2 separate regions of the Homo sapiens genome follow, and region 2 is linked to region 1. The links come from fine-mapping of genetic effects on gene expression. A gene starts in region 1. The other region holds a variant in brackets. All regions are shown on one strand. Distances are between the middles of the regions. Region 1 holds the start of SLC2A10 (solute carrier family 2 member 10). Region 2 holds the start of OCSTAMP (osteoclast stimulatory transmembrane protein).

The links. PIP is the estimated chance that this variant, and not a neighbour inherited with it, causes the effect.
Region 2: its variant is the best candidate, but not a certain one, in a credible set for the expression of SLC2A10 in adrenal gland (GTEx, PIP 0.86).

What each region holds. Positions count from the first base shown.
Region 1 is chr20:46,705,624-46,713,956 of GRCh38, forward strand. It overlaps SLC2A10 (solute carrier family 2 member 10), which reads left to right and starts at 4,026. Exons shown (of 5, transcript NM_030777.4): 1 at 4,026-4,117. The coding sequence starts at 4,114.
Region 2 is chr20:46,542,776-46,551,108 of GRCh38, forward strand. OCSTAMP (osteoclast stimulatory transmembrane protein) reads right to left here and starts at 7,879. Exons shown (of 3, transcript NM_080721.3): 1 at 7,742-7,879; 2 at 2,552-3,554. The coding sequence starts at 7,785. RefSeq lists enhancers at 2,185-3,036, 2,243-2,312. The variant C/T (reference allele first, on the strand shown) is at 4,678.

The DNA.
Region 1 (8,333 bases):
CACTTCGTTTCATCAAATAGAATAAATGTTCCAGTAAGCTGAGAAGCAGAGGTTGGCTTTATAAAGACAGAGAAGGACTGAAGAAAGCAGAAACAAAGAACAAAAAGTATATTAGTTACTTTAGAGCAATAGAAAAATAACTGGTTAACATCAGGTTACTTCAGGCTACCTTTTTTGTGTAAGGATGAAAGCAGAGGGAACTTCATCATCACACTGATTGAAGATTTAAGCTGGCTGCTTGTCTCTCTCCTGATTTCTGGAAAGGTCAGATAACAACTTAGCTTAGGTTCAGTGACCTGGAACTCTAGCATGGGTGACTCCATTTTGATTTTCAGTCTGTTCTGTTGGGGACTAGTGCAGGAGCTTAGTCCAAAACAATGGCTGGTAAGGTTGCCAGATTTAGCAAAAACAGCAACAAATAGTATGCCCAGTTAAACGCGAATTTCAGATAGACATCAAATAATTTTGTAGTAAAATTATGTCCCATGTTTATCTGAAATTCACATTTAACTGGGCATCCTGTATTTTATCCTGTATTTTATCTAAATTCTGTGTCACTCCCCAAGAAATCAACTTGGGTTCTGAGGCCATCTATAAAAGGAAGTTTATTAAAGTGGCTTTTTAAGGGAATTTTTTTTTTAAATCAGAGAAACTCCTTTTTCCATGATGGACCCCAAGCTAATGAATAGGCTTTTAAAATAGTGAGTGAGAGGTTTACAACACTTAAGAGACAGACATTGGTGAGAAGGGCTTTTCAGCAAAGTCCTATAATTGCTGAATGGGTTCTTCCTGCTCGCTGCACAGACAAAACCAGTTCACTGAGACTGCAGTATTGCAGTAGAGAAAGAGTTTTATTAATGCAGAGCTAGCCAAGTGGGCTAGGTGGAGTTATTCCTCAAATCAGTCTTTCTGAAAACTTCAGAAACCAGGGTTTTTATAAATACTTTGGTGAGCAGGGGGATAGGGAATGGGTGCTGCTGATTGGTTGGGGGGGTGAAATCATCGAGATATGGAAAACAGCCCCGTGCACTGAGTCTGCCTCTAGATGGGAGCCACAGGACCAGTCCACTCATGAATCTTTAGTCCAGGCGGGGTCAGTTGGTTGCCAGGATGTGAAAGTATGAAAAACATCTCAAAAGATGAATCTTAGGTTCTACAATAGTGATGTTATCTACAGGAGCAATTGGGGAAATTACAAATCTTGTGACCTCTGGCCACATGACTCCTGAGCAGTAAGGAATTACCAAAACTACACCTGCATTTTAGCATAATTCAGGCCCATCCCATAATCCTAACCTCATGGACTTTCATTAATTTTACAAAGGTAGCTTCAGTCCCTGAGCAAGGAGGGGGTTAGTTTTAGGGAGTGATTATTATCATCCTTGCTTCAAAGTTAAAATATAAACTAAACTCCTCTCGTGGTTGGCTTGGCCTATACCCAGAAATAAGCAAAGACAGGTAGCCGGTGAGGTCAGAGTCAAGATGGAGTCAACCATGCCAGATTTCTCTTGCTCTCTAATCTTTGCAAAGGCATTTTCAGTCCCTTAAGATCACATTAAATTAAAGTTAGATACCATCCTCACCGATTTCTCAGCTTCTGATGGTTAACTGTTCAAGGGTCAGAGGAGAGATTCAAGGCCAAGGGTGATAAGCCTCCTAGTGTCCATGTAGATATAACCTAATCTCTACTTTCTCCTGGAGATGATCCATCTCCTTTTTCTAATCAAGATAATGAACAATAATGAAATGTGTATTCGTTATTTATCACTGTATAACAAATTATTCCCCAAATTTAGTGGCTTAAAGAAACAAACATTTATTATCTCATGTCTTCTAGGATAAAGAATTTAGCATAGCTAAATTCTAGCTCTGAGCAAGAGCTCAGAATCTTGCAAGGTTGAAATCAAGGTGTCAGCCAGGACTAGAGTCACCTCCAGGCTAGGCTGAGGGAAGATTCACGTCCAAGCTCACCACAAGCTTGTTGGCCAGATTTAGCTCCTTAGGGGCTGTTGATTTAAGGGCTTTAGTCCCTCACTGGTTATTGCCTGGAGGCATTAGCTATGTGATTCAATAGCTTCGCTCCATGTGGGCCTCTCCATTGGGAAGCTCAAAACATGGCAGCTCAATTGCTTCATCAGAGCAAACAAGTGAGAGATCTCGAAACTGAACAACACAGAAATCATTTATAACCTAATCCGAAAATGACATCCACCATATTTGCCGTCTTCTATTCATTAGACGTTGCTAAGTGATACTTCTAGTGACATCTAGAAGAGAAGAGGATGCCACTAGGCCACGAATACCAGGAGGGTCTCAGTGTAATCAGACTTTTTATATGAAGGCTCAGGGATCCAGGCACCAGTATTCCAGTGACCCAGCCTCAGAAGTTACACAGTGTCACTCTGCAGGCTACTGATCAAACCAGTCACAAGCCCACTTTTATTTCAAGGGAAGGAACAACGAATTCTGGAGCCATGTTTTCAAACTGCCCCAGCTATTATTATTTTTGAAACTGTGCAAGGATCCCCTGGTTCAGAGGTCTTATGGATGCTGTCATCTTTGCTGAGATACCTGCTTGTGCCTTCAGCATGGAAGAATGCCTGTGTATCCACCTGTACGGTAGGGGTCGCTGTGACTTTGACTGGTGAGGGTACAGCCACTGGTGCACATGCAAAGGTGCCTATCTGTGAACACGTATTGAGAGGCTGGATAAGGCTGCGCCCATGTGAGTGCTGGGCTTGTACGTGCATTTTTGCCTGAGTGAGCATTAGTGGCAGTGTCCCCAGCCTACCCCTTTCCTGAATCCCAGGCTCATAGCCAACTGCCCACCTATTTCCACGTGGATGCCTGCTGAGCACCTCAAATGTCACACAGCCAAGACAGAACTCTGGATCTCCTTTCCCAGCCACAAGCTGCCCCTCTTCCAGTCTGTAAGTTCTTACGGAGCATATATATGTGATCTGCCTACTTTTCTCCAACCTCACCACAGTGACATGAGCCCAAACCAACTTCTCACCTTGCAACAGCCTCCCAGGTGGGAAGGCTGAGTATTCTGGCCCTTAACCAGTTAGAACTCCCCAGTTATCTGTCCTGCTGATGGGGTTGAAATCTACATTCCTGACCCTGGCCCACCAAAGCCCCTCCCTTAGCTCCCATCTCCCTCCTCTCTCCCTGTCTTCTCCTCTGCTCCAGACACTCTGGCTTCATTTCTGCGTTTTTTGTACCCCATAAGCTCCTTCCCACCCCGGGGCCTTTGCCTTTGCTGTTCCCCCTGCGGGGAATGCCGGATCTCTGCTCAGATATCCTCTTCTCAGATCAGCAAGCTAAAGCAGCCACCTGTGTCTGCCTAACCCACCACCGTAGTTTAACTTTCTGCCTAGTCTTTATCACTAGCTGATATTTCTCAGGATCCTTTAGTTACTTCTTTTTCGTCTTCCCCTCCTAGAATGTAAACTCTTCCCCTCCTAGAAGGTAAACAAAAGACCTGTTCTGTTTTGTTCTTCGGCCCATCCCAAGCCTAGCGTAGTGCCTGGTATGTGGTGGTGTCCAAACCCAAGCGTGGAGTGAATGAGGGATGAATCCATGAGAGAGTGAGCGGCTCCAGTGGGTATGCGCGAGTGTCTCACTCGGTGTAGATGTGTGTGTTGTGTGTGTTGTGTGTGTGCGCACGCTGGGGAGGCCAGACAAGTGTGGACCAGTGATTGGGGCACCTCTTCCCTGCAAAGAGGCCAGGGGAAGACAGTGCGTGTGGGGTCTTCTACCAGGGAGGATGGCTTGCTGGTGTGTCCCCCCCAGGGGAGGACTACCAACGAAGGGGACCCGGGAGATGGCGGGTGGGGGCCCCCGGGAGGACAGTGGGCGAGGGAGGGGGTCCTTGCCAGGCCTGGGGCGGCCGGGGGCGGTCCTGGGCTCCCCTCCGTCCCGCCTCCAGGCCTCGGGGCCTGGCTGGCCGACGTGGCGTTGGCGGCGCTGCGCGCGGGAGGGCAGGGCAGGAGGGACAGAGGCGGGGGCGGGCCGGAAAGTTTGTCCGGCGGCAGCGGCGTTGGGGACTCCGGCGGGGGATGCGCGCCCGGCCCCTCAGCGCCCCCAGCACGCCGCCGAGTCCCGCTCGCCATGGGTAAGTCCCGATCGGGCGCTGCCTGCTGGAAGCCCGACCCCTTCCCAGGGTGTAGACACCGCCCCCACGCTCCCCTAAGAGTGCGCGCCCCCTGGCTCCCCCAGGGCCGCCCCGGCCGGATACCGCCTCTCGGGTGGCCAGCCCGAGACTGCAGGCCTGCGGCGGGGGCTGGGACGGGGCTCGGTCGCGCTTCCTTCCATCTTCCTTTCTGCCCCGGAAAAGTGGCCCCTCACTTGCTGCAGCGCCCACTCGGGCCCAGGCACTCTCCCGGGCGCCCTGATCCGACAGCCCCAGGCAAGTGCAGCTGTTCCTGGTCTGCAGATGAAGAAATGGAGGCTCCGAAAGAAGCAAAGCAGTTCATCGATTCGCTGAGCGCGGTTGTGCCCCAGGCGCTGTTGTGGGCCTGGGGACGCTGTCGCGAACGAAACTGCGAACAAAACAGACGAACCCCCTCCTCTGGACGTGATTCTGCAGAGAGGGGACAGAGAAGGAGATTCTAACACAGCATTGGGGTGGGACGCGTGGGGAATGGCTTTGTTGCCACTCGGGACTAGGGCTCTATTTTTCTCTCTGCATTCAGAAGCCTCGAAGGATCAGTCGTTGATTCTTGAGTGAGCACCTACTACGTGCCAGACATTGATATAGGGGTTAGAGCTTCAGCAATGAACAAAATAGACAATAAACCTCTCTCTCATGGAGGTGGCATTCTGATTGAGCAGCTGGGTAAACACGTTTATGAATAACTTCAGAGAGAGATAAGGTGTTGTGGAACCCATAAAATGGGGTGGCGTGAAGGCCAAGGGCGTGGGTTCCTTGGGTAGGTGGTCAGGGTGGGTTTTCTGGAGTAGGACGTTTTGGAGCTGAGAACTTCCTCAGAAGCGGGTCTTGCTGAGATCTGGAGAAAGAGCTTCCAGGTGGCAGCAACAGTGCAAAGGCCCTCAGGCAGGAATGAGTTTGTGTGGCCCAGGCCAGGATGGCCAGAGCACAGCGGGCAGGGCACTGAGGTCAAAGGGATGGCAGAGAGGTGTGCAGGGCTTTGTAAGCCGTGGTGAGAAGTTCAGATTTTATTGCAAATGCCACGGCAAGCTGGAGAAGGGTTTTAAGCTGGAGCGGGGCCGTGACCTGAATTATCTTTTCTTTTTTTTTTCTTTTTTTTGAGATGATCACTCTGTCGCCAGGCTGGAGTGCAGTGGCGTGATCCCGCTCACTGCAACCTCCAGCTCCCTGGTTCAAGCAATTCTCCTGCCTCAGCCTCCCAAGTAGCTGGGATTACAGGCATACACCACCACGCCCAGCTAATTTTTGTATTTTTAGTAGAGAGTGGGTTTCACCATGTTGGCCAGGATGTCTTGATCTCCTGACCTCGTGATCCGGCTGCCTCGGCTTGGGATTACAGGCGTGAGCCTCCGCGCCCGGCCCTGAATTAACTTCTCAAAGTTTGCTCTGAGTCGTTCTGTGGAGAATCACAGTCGCTAACACTGGCTATGATGTAGGTAAGCATAGAAGGTAGGCATTAATATCCCATTTGTAGATGGGGAAGCCCAGAGAGGTGAGGTGAGTTCCCCAAGGTCACACAGCTATGGAGAGGAGAAGCTGGGAAGGAGCCCCAGCATTCTGACTCCAGTCTGCATTCCTAACCACTGCACCACGTGGCCTGTCATGGTGGATTAATGGTAAAACTGGTGACCAGTTCCGGCTCTGACAGGAGAGTCCATCCTCTTAACCCCCACAGCACAGTGCCCCAGAGCCTGAGAAAAAAATGAGGCCCAGAGAGGTCAAGGTCTTCTTAAGGACACTCAGCTTAGCCCTAGCCCCTTGTTCCTGCACCTCCTATTCCTGCTAAATCAACCCAACAGCCATTTGCTGAGTGCCTTCTATGGGCAGAGCGAGGGCTGGGTGTTAGTGCTGGGGGAGGCATAAGTCATGGCTGCGGGTCTCTGTCCTCCCCAGAATTCTTACACAGCAGGGACCAGGGATTGGGCTCTCTTTATAGCCTCTGGGGGCAGAACTGGGTTCTAGACCCAATTCCTCTCACTTTGTTCCACCATTCCACTTTGACCTGGGAGAGTCTGCCAACTTCTCTGGTCACTATCAAATACCCTTATCACAGGGTAGCCATGAGAATGATGTGAAAAAATGAATTACAGTGCTCGGCTCATCACCTATATCTGGTAAATGGTGAGTGAATGTGAGTTTTTATTTTATATTGCACCCAATATTGGGATTCTGGAGTCAGACTGCCCGAGTTCAAGTTCCTGCTATGTGACTTACAAACTGTGCCACCTTGGGGAAATGTCTTCACCTCTCAGTGTGGTGGTTATTTCTGTAAAATGGGAATGACAATAGTGATTGTCATAGGATTGTCTAGGGATTAAGCCAGCTGGTACAGATACTGCCCCTTAGGAGAGTGGCTGGCTATAGTGGGTACTCCAAGTATCAGCTGTGGCTGCAATTGCTGGGACATTTGGAAGCCGGCCATCTGCAAGAGGATATTCATACAGTTCAATTTCACATCTGGCTTCTCCCTGGAGCTTCAGGGAAAGCCACAGCAGGTCTCTGGTGCAGGAGGGACCCAGTGCTCTGTGACCTCTGGTTGAGACACTACTCTAGTGTCACCAACGGGAGGCCTAGGACTTGCAGCTGGAGATACTTGCATCCCAAACCAGGGTTCTCCCCCCTCCCCCTGCCCCCTGACCCTGTCCCGGGGAAGCTGTGCCCTCCACAGCGAGGGGCTTAGAGGATTAAGGGATTTCCTCCAGTGTGGGACATCTTCACTACAGCCTATGTTAGGCAGGTTATTAATAGAAAGGATGCACACTTGCTAAACTTAGGTCAAGCCGTCTTAATGTGTTCTCCTTAATTTTCTTTCTTTTCTTTTTTTCTCTTTCTTTCTTTCTGTCTTCTTTCTTTCTTTTTTTTTTTTTTTTTTTTTTGACAAAGTCTGGCTCTGTCATCTAGGCTAGAGTGCAGTGGTACAGTCTCGGCTCACTGCAACCTCTGCCTCCCAGGCTCAAGCCATCCTCCCACCTCAGCCTCCCAAGTAGCTGGAATTACAGGTGCACACCACTATTCCTGGCTCATTTTTGTATTTTTTGGTAGAGATGGGGTTTCACCGTGTTACCCAGGCTGATCTTGAACTCATGAACTCAAGTGATCCACTTGCCTTAGCCTCCCAAAGTATTGGGATTATAGGCATGAGCCACCGAGCCCAGCCTAAGACATCTTAATTTGAGGACGAGGCTTTGCTCTGCTTCCTGTCCATGGCCACTTCCAGGCCCTGGACCTTTCAGATGTTCATGAGCCAAGATCCTTTCTTTCTGGATTTCCTACATCCCCACAGTTCATTTGGTTTTTCATTCATTCACTCAATCATTCATTTGTTTAACAAATATTATTGATTGAGTGCTGAGTAACTGTCCTTGGCCTCAGGGAGACAGCTGAGAAGAAACAAACCACTCCTGTTCCCTTGAGGCTGACTTTCAGGTCAGGGAGACCAATAAATATGTAAAATATGTAGTTATTTTGGAAGATGAGAAGTGCCACGCAGAAAAAACAAGTGGAGAAGGGAATACAAAGTGCTAGATGCTACAGGGAGGTTGAATTTTAGGTAGAAGGCCAGGGACAGCCTCACCGAGAAGGGGATGTTTCAGCAAAGATCAGAAGGGAGGAAGGAAGGAACTGTTGGCATGGAGGGACAGGACTTCCCAGGCAGAGAGGCTGGCAGGTACCAAGCTTTGAGTTGGGACGTGCTTGGAGTGAGAGTAGCAGCAAGGAACCAGTGTGACTGGAGCCCAGTGAGAGGGGGCAGATCCTGCAGAGTCTTGAAGGCCACGGTGAGGACGTTGGCTTTTCTTAGACTGAAATAGGAGCCTTGGAGGGCTCCTAGTGGAAGAGTGACGAGGCCTGACTTAGGTTTTCCCAGAATCCTTCTGGCTGCTGTGTAGAATTAGTTTAGGTTCAGAGGTATCTGACACAGCCCTAGAAATGTCATGAGGTGAAATAGCCCTGGTCCTCTACCCAGTCATTTGTTCATTCAGCAGAAACTTCACTGGGTTCCTCTTGGGTGTCAGGGCAGGGCTGGGGCCCCGGAGGCTCAGGACGAGTCAGTCTCTATCCCTGCCCTCCTTAGTTGAATATGGAAGACTCATAAAGGAACTTGCAGTGTGAAGGAAAAAGAGTACAGTGGAGAGTTGAGGAAGATGCATGGGAATTGGTC
Region 2 (8,333 bases), 160 kb before region 1:
CAACCTGGGTTGGATTCTGCACTAACCCAGGTGCAGAAGGATAGCTTGCCACACCCCAAATGGTTCAAATGAATGCAGGAGAAACTCCCAAAGCTTTCAGAAAAGATGAAATAATGTGAAAGCAATGAGTGGGCCTGTACAATTTATGCTTTCCCAGAGGATCAGAGAGTGCCAGCCTCAAAACTTGCTGAGTGAGGGCCCGCAGCTTGCAAGAAAATGCTGGAAACAATGGTGGGGCATCACCGGGGCTCTGGAAGGCACAGAGAATGATATTGGAGGAAAAGCCTCAGAGACTGACTCCTCGGCCAGAGTCATTCAGAAAAGTCAGATTGAATGTTTTAGGAAAACCATCAGATTACTTCCCCTCCCTCCCTTCCTTCCTTCCTCCCTTCCTTCCTTCGTCCCTCCCTCTCTCTCTCATTCCTTCCTTTTTTCTTTCTTCCTTCCTTCCTTTCTTTTTCTTTCTTTCTTTCTTTCTTTCCTTCTTTCTTTTCTTTCTCTCTTTCTCTTTCTTTCTCTCTTTCTCTTTCCTTTCTTTCTTTCTTTCTTTCTTTCTTCGTTTCTTCCTTTTTTTTTTTTTGGAGTCTTGCTGGCTCAGGTTGGAGTGCAGTGGAGCAATCTCAATTCACTGCAAACTTTGCCTCCCAGGTTCAAGCGATTATCTCACCTCAGCCTCCTGAGTAGCTGGGATTACAGGCACACACCACCATGCCTGGCTAATTTTTGTATTTTCAGTAGAGATGGGGTTTCACCATGTTGTTGGCCAGGCTGGTCTTGAACTCCTGACCTCAGGTGATCCACCCACCTCGGCCTCCCAAAGTGCTGGGATTATAGATAGGCATGAGCCTCCATGCCCAGCCCCCTATTTTTCTTTTTATGTATACGCGAGAAAGATATGGCAAAATAAACCTATGTTAAATAATAAGTGAACTATTTTATACAAATACAATAAAAATTCTAAATGATAAGAAAGCATTGTGTCAAGGTTGAATTGGTAGCATTTTCTGCCCTAAGGATACATAAAGTAATGGTGTGACTTGCAATTGATGACTATCTGAGATTTGGTGAAAATGAGTAAATCAGGGAACATGCTTAGAACATTGCCTGACACATTTCTTTACTGTGACCTATGGTAAGAAATGCATTTTACAGGCCAGGCATGGTGGCTTATGCCTGTAATCCCAACACTTTGGGAGGCTGAGGTGAGAGGAATGCTTGAGCCCAGGAGTCTGAGACCAGCCTGAGCCACATAGTGGGACACCATCTCTAAAAAAAATATTAAAAATTAACTGGGTGGTGGTGGTGCATGCCTGTAGTCTCAGCTACTTGGAAGGCAGAGGTAGGTGAAGTGGGAGGCTCGTTTGAGCCAGGAGGTCAAGGTTACAGTGAGCTGTGATTGCACCACTGCACCACTGCATTCTGGCATGGGCAACAGAGTGAAACCCTGTCTCAAAAAAGGAAAGAAAAGAAATGCATTTTACAGTACCTTCAAAGCAGAGATTGTTTTGTAATTGAAGAAAATATTCAAAAACCATACACTCCCTTATTGCCTAAGATGTAATCTTATAATTTTCCAGTTGATTCTATTTCATTAAAAACACTATTTATGACTCCTTAAATTGATTAAATTGATTTTGTGCAGTCTGAAAAGCACTTTCTTAATATGTAATAAGTACTTGATAAATATAAACTGTTAATATTATTAGCTCGAAGTTTGACACTTTGATATGTTTTATGCAATGGACTTTTGTGTGAGACCTCACTACTAAAAATTAAAAATAAAAAGATCCGTGGCAAAAGAAAGGATCGAAAAACACAACTCTTGATCTGATAGTAATATATCCGATTATAAGTCGATAGTAAATATTTTCTATATCACTATTAAAATAGCAAATATTTCAGGCTTTGCAGGACATACAGTCTCTGTTGCAATTACTCAACTTTGCCTTTGTAGGGCAGCCACAGACAATATATTGACAAATGGCATGGCTGTGTTCTAAAAAAGCTTTATTTACAAAACCAAGAAGCCATTGGATTTGTCCTGAAGGCTATAGTTGGATGCCTCCTGATCAAGGCCATTCCAAAGTCCTCCTCCAGTCTGACATAGACAGATGTAAGCTATTAATAATAGCCACTCTTTATTAAATAATCTCTTATGTGCCATGGAGCTTACTAGGTACTTTAAGACAATACCACATTGTAAGACACAATAGCCTTTTAGGATTAGGAGGATCGATTCAATTTGTACAAATGTGGAAAATGAGGCTAGGACAAGCTGCCACTTGTGAAGGGTGACCTTGGATGCAAGTTATTTTAAGGTGTCTGGGTTTCAGCATCCTCAACTGCAATAGGAAGTGAAAATAGAAACCACTTCCTAGAGCTGTTGTGGGTATCCGATGAGTCCCTCTGCCCATGGTATGGGGCCCCATGGATGATTCAAGGGCTGTTTCTTGGAGGCAAGTCAAATTTCATCACAAGTCAAGGGTTTAACAGATTCTCCCCCTGCCCTCAAAACAATGACTCCCTTCCCTTTTCCCATCATCACACTTACATCATACTTGACCGTGAGCGTGATGGGCACAGTTGGCAACTTCTGAGCCCAGTCCACAGTAGCCTGTGCCAGGAGGAAGGCTACATGGTCTGTGGCCACCGCCACAGCCGTGGCCACGAGGAGCAGGGCAAGCAGCCCCAGCCTTAGAAGACAACTCAACAGCTCCTCCTGTGACAGCCTCAGCTGAGCCGCCTGGAGCAGCCAGGTGGGTGGAGGGGCCAGGAGGTGTGTAGCCTGGGCCTGTGCCAACCGCTGGGTCAGCTGTTGAGTGGCGTAGATATTGTCAAACCGCAGGTCTGTCAGGTAGCAATGGAGGTACCATGCCGACTCCACCAGGAGGCCCAACATAAACAGCCCTGTGACCACTCGCTGGGTCCCTAGCGCTGCTGCCCGGGCCAGGGACTCCAGGCCAGAGAAATCCTCCAGGACCTGCTGAGTGACCCTGAGCATGTGAAGGTAGAAGGCAGAGCCATTGTCCTGGGCCTCAAATGTCAGGCCCCGGCTGCCTGCCTGGCCTGTGGGGCCCAGAGCCCTGGATGCTGCATGCAGCTGGTGAGTGGTATTGAGGAGACTCTCCAGGGAGCCCTCGGTGACACACCTCAGCACCTGCCCGGCCGCACCCACGTTGGCCAGGACGTTGGGCACCACAGCAATGGCCAGGGTGGCAGTGCTGTAGGACAGGAGCAGCCGGCGGCCCTGCTCCATACCCAGGGTGGGCACGCTGAGTGCAAACAGGCAGCGGACTGGGGGTACCAGGCCCAGGCTCAGGAAGACCAGGAGGCCACAGACAGTGGCAACCATGGCTGAAGGTCCAGGAGGATAAAGCAGCAAGGATGCCAGCCAGTGATAAACCAGACCTGCAGCAGCAGCAGCCAGGGAGGCACACAGGAGGAGCTGGGTCAGCAGCTGGCCACAGCTGGCTGGAACAGGCTGGGAGAAGGCGTCCCAGGCAGCCTGCAGTGGGGCAAGGGCCTTCCAGAACCCCAAGTGCCAGGACCTCCACCTGCACACAAGGAAATTGAAGGGCATCTCTATCAGGAGGTGGGTGGGTGGGTGTCTGTCCACTGCCCCTGCCCCACATACCCATCACCAGGCTCTGCTAACAGACTCCACCCTTGTAGTTACCCAGGTGGACCAATCAGAGTAAGTCACTGTATACCCACGTGACACAAGCTGAACCAATCAGAGCCTTCCCCAGGATTACTCTCGCTGGAACTGTCAGGGAAGAGCCCAATTCCCATGCAGTACCTGAGGATGTGAGGATGAAAGTCTGCCCTGTTTGAGTCCATTATTACAGTTTTGTGAAGGCAACTGGCCCAAGAGAATGAAAGAGTCATGGAGCGAGAAGCACAGGTGAAAGAGAGAGAATGAGTAAGAGGAGAGAGAAGAAGAGAAACGATTTCACTTGAATTAATAGTCTTGGTGGCTTGCTGTATGATTCTGGACCTTCTATTCTTTCTGAACTTCAGGGTCTCCTCTATAATTTAGGGGTGAGGAGGGTGAACTAGTTGGCCTGTGAGGGACTTTTATATTCTATCATCCTTATATTTATTCATTCAACAAGTGTTTATCAAGCAACGACTTTGTGTTAACCATTGGAGAAACAGGAATGAAAAAAACAGAAGTCCCTACCTTCGTGGGGCTTGCACTATGTTAAGAGCGATGGCAGAGGAGTAGTAAGGAAAGCTTGGATTCTGAACACATTTTGTTGGCAGAGTCAACAAGATTTGCAGAGGCTGATTGGTTGTGGGGTGTGAGAGAAAGAGGGGAGTCAAGGATGACGAGGTGCTTTTGTGTCTGAGCAACTGGAAGCACCAAGGTGTCATTTCCTGAGATGAGAACTCTGTGGTCAAAACAGGTTTGAGTGGAGGGGGAGAGAGGAGGAATTCAGTTCAGAACTCTTAAATTTGAGATTCAGTTGAGCCATTCCGTGGAGCTTTTGACGACGTGGTTGGAAATAGAAGTCAGGAATTCAGAGGGGAGGTCAGGCTGGAGTTATAACATTGGGAGTCTGATTATTAGATGTCTCCCAACTTTATATCCCTACCTAAAGCCATGTGCACCATGAGATTCCTCAAGAGAGTGTGTCACTGGGGAGGAAAGACATCCAAGGACATGCCTCAAGG[C/T]GCTCCAAGGTTAGGGGCTCTTAGATAAGGAGGAACCAGCAAAAGAGACTGAGAAACCAATGTGGTGCTTAGGAAGCCAAATAAACAAAATGTTTCAAGGAGAAAGGAGTGATCAAGTACGTCAAATGCAGCCAACAGGTCAAGAATGATGAGGACTGAGCAATGCCTATTAGCCGCTTAGAGGTCACTGTTGACCTTGGCAGGGAGAGTTCGGTGGCTTTTGGGGCCAAAATCCAACTAGACTGGGTCCAGGAGAGACGGGAAGGAGAAGAATAGGAAACACAGATACAGACAACTCTTTCCGGTAATTTCTACACTAAAACAGCAGGGAGATGAAGCAGTGGCTGGTAGCTATGGGAAATTGGACCAAGAGAATTCATGTAAAGGGAGGAAATCTATAGCATGTTTGCAGGTGGGAGATCTCATCGAGAGGGGAGACATTGACAAAGGGGAGACTCCCTGGAGTGACACCTGTAGGGGTGGAGGCAGAGAGTGAGACTGAGAACATGCAAGGTGGGGCTGGTCTTAGAATAGAGCAGGGGTCGTTCATCCTTAATAGCAGGTGGGAAAGCAGAGGAAATAGGTACAGATGATGGCGAATGAACAGGCAGCGTGTATGCACCTGTGAAAAGTATCCTCTGATATACGCAGAGCAGAGTAATGTTAAGGGCATGACCTCTGGACTGCCTGGGCTCAAATTTCTGCTCCACCACTTGCCAGCTATGTGAACTTGGGTACATATCACAACCTTTCTGTGTCTCAGCTGTCTCATCTGTAAAATGGTGCAATAAAAGTATGCACCTCCTGGGGTCACTTTGTTTCTGGCACATGGTAAGTATCACATCAGCTATTACCTACCACTAGAGTCAACTCCACCGGAGCAGGGACTTTGTCCGTTTTGGTCACTGATATGTCCCAAGTGCCTACAATAGTGTCTGCCATGTTGTGAGTGCTCCAAAACTATTCATTAAGAGTAGCATGACCGATTGCTTCTGTTTGCTCAGGTTGGCAGGAAGCAAGGTCAGCAGAGAAGGTAAGATGCTGGCGGAGGTGATGGATGCTTGAAGAGGAAGAAGAAAGTACAAAATGGTTGCCCAGGAAAGTGGGAGAACAAACGAACTGGGGCAATAACATATGTGCTGGGCAACACTGAGGCCCACTTGAGGTTGGAGATCATACATTATCTTAAGTGAGAGCAGGCAGAAAGGTTATACGGGAATATGGTTATAAAGGGCAGGGAGGGTGGTGGGGAGGCTGTCACTGTGTTGGTTACAGGCAAAGCTGCTGACTTGCTCCACCATCAACAGCTTGAAGGATAAGCATGTGACTGGGTCTAGTTGATCCAAGTACCTCTGATCCCCTGGCCACCGTGACTGGTGCAGGGATTGCACCTGACCGGAGATGGACCAATAGAGCTTTCCTCAGGATTTTGCTGCAACGACAAAAAAACTGCCCTTTGTTGCCTTGAGAGCTAAGCTGGTAGGAAGATGCCTCAAGCCTTGGGGACCACCATGTAGTATGAGTCGGCCTGGGATGAAGGCAACACAAGGAAAACAGTGTTAGGAAACAGACAGAGAGTCCCAGTGGCCTTGTTGGAGGACCTGGATCCAGAAATGCCTGAAGCCGAAATCTATGCCGGACCACACACTAGGAGATGTCTGTTTTTCTACAGGCAGTGTAAGATCAATCTGTCACTTGCAACTCAATGAGTCCTGACTAATACAGAAACCTTTGTCACAGGGCTTCTGGGACAATAAAATGAAATAATCCATGTAAAGAAGTTTACACAGGGTCTGGCACAGAAGAGGGATCCTATAAAACTGCACCACTTGTTACTCTGATGATACTTATGTCAACGATGTAAATGTTTCACTCGAGTCTCCTCTGTGCCCAGGCTCTGTGCTGACCCCTGTGGACACAAAGATGAATTAAGTCCTGGTCCCACTAAAGGAGTTCACAGTCTAATTGAGGAGACTTAAATAGACCATTAGAGTTTAAGTTCATTAACAAAGAATTCTGAGCATAGTATGCCTGGGCCTGGACTGGGGTGGGATAGATGGAGAGTGACCCAGTTTTACCTGGGAGTCAGGAAGGCTCCCTGGAAGAGGTGACATTCCAGCTGGGGGTGGAAGGACAAGTGTCAGTTTGTGGGTGAAGAAGGGAGTTGGACATCCCTGACAGAAGGAACAGCGTGTGCAAAGGTCCTGTGCTCTGACCATCGGGAAATAGGGAGTTGGGAGAACCAGAACAGTGGGAAGCTGAGATGCAGTGAGGCCTGTGGGGCTGGAGTGAAGGTCACAACCTTGAAGCCCTAAAGGCTGAATCATATGCAAATGTGCCTTATTGTGGCCCACTCTGTGTGTGTGTGTGTGTGTGTAAGCTGCCCCCATTTGGAAATAAGGAAGTTTCACATTAAAATCTGGGTTTCCAGCTTTTCTTGAGAGATAAGAAGATCTGGGTTAGAGCTCCCACCTTTGCAACAGGTAGCTGGAGCTGAGTATCCACTACCCACCTTTGACAGGGGAGCAGCCCTGCAGACTGCATCCTGCTGATCAATGAACGGGTCCGTCTGCACACCCAGGTGGCCTTCCACAGGTGCAACCCCTTCCCAGCTCCCGAAGGCATTTGAATTTGGGACTAAACACCCCCTTCTACTATATAATTAATATTTGGAACACAGTAGCTTTTGGAATAATAGCTAATAATAAAAACAATTTTAAGGATTGAAAGCCAGTCCTAAGTCATATTGGATGACAATTCCTGCACGGGGTATTGAAAATGGCAAGGAAACTAGCTGCTGTTTAGTGAGTGCTTCCTCTGAGCCAAGCAGGTGCCAAGTACTAAGCATGTGTTTTCTCATTCAATTCTGGCAACAGTCTTGTAGATGTCATTATTACTTCCATTTCACAGATGGGGAACTGAGGCTCACAGAGAACTGAGGATTTGCCTAAGGTCACATAGCCAAGGAATGGCAGAGCTGAAGATTTGGGTTCATATCCATCACCCCCAATGGCTGACTGTTTTCTCACCTGTAGCCCTCAGTGTCCAAAGTCCCCAGACCTACCCGGTCTTGACAAGTTGCTCAGCTGCTCCTGGGTGGCCTGGCATGCTGTCCAAATGGCAGTGGTTTCAGGCGGGCGGTCGCTGGCAGCTGTGGCAGGTGGAGAGGAAGTGGGGGAATCGCTGGGACTTGGGAATCCCTGCCACTTCTGCTTTTCCACTCTTTAATGAAGCTCTCCTGGCTGCCTTGTCCCGCCCTTTTCGGGGCCCACCTCCCAGAGGGTTGGGCAAGCTGCCTCATCCTCTGCCCACAAGCAAGAGCGGGTGGAAGGTGTGGGAAGAGGAAAAGACAGCCTTTTCCAAGCGATGTCTCTAATCTTGGTAGCAGGAAGGTAGAATTAGCCCCATTTTACAGAGAAGGAAACTGAGGCACAGAGAAACCATACAGCTTCCCTTTCCCTCCCACTCCATAGTTGTGTGCCCCAAGGGGAGCCTGATCCCTGCTCTTGGGACTCACAGGTGATAATCAGACCCCTGCCAAGTACTGGGAGCAGTGGCTCTGGTCTCCTTCCCCAGCCCCCTTCCTGTCTTTAGCCTGACTTGTACCTCGCTTCAAATCTCAGCTCTGTCCCTCCCTAGCTATGAGACCTTGGGCA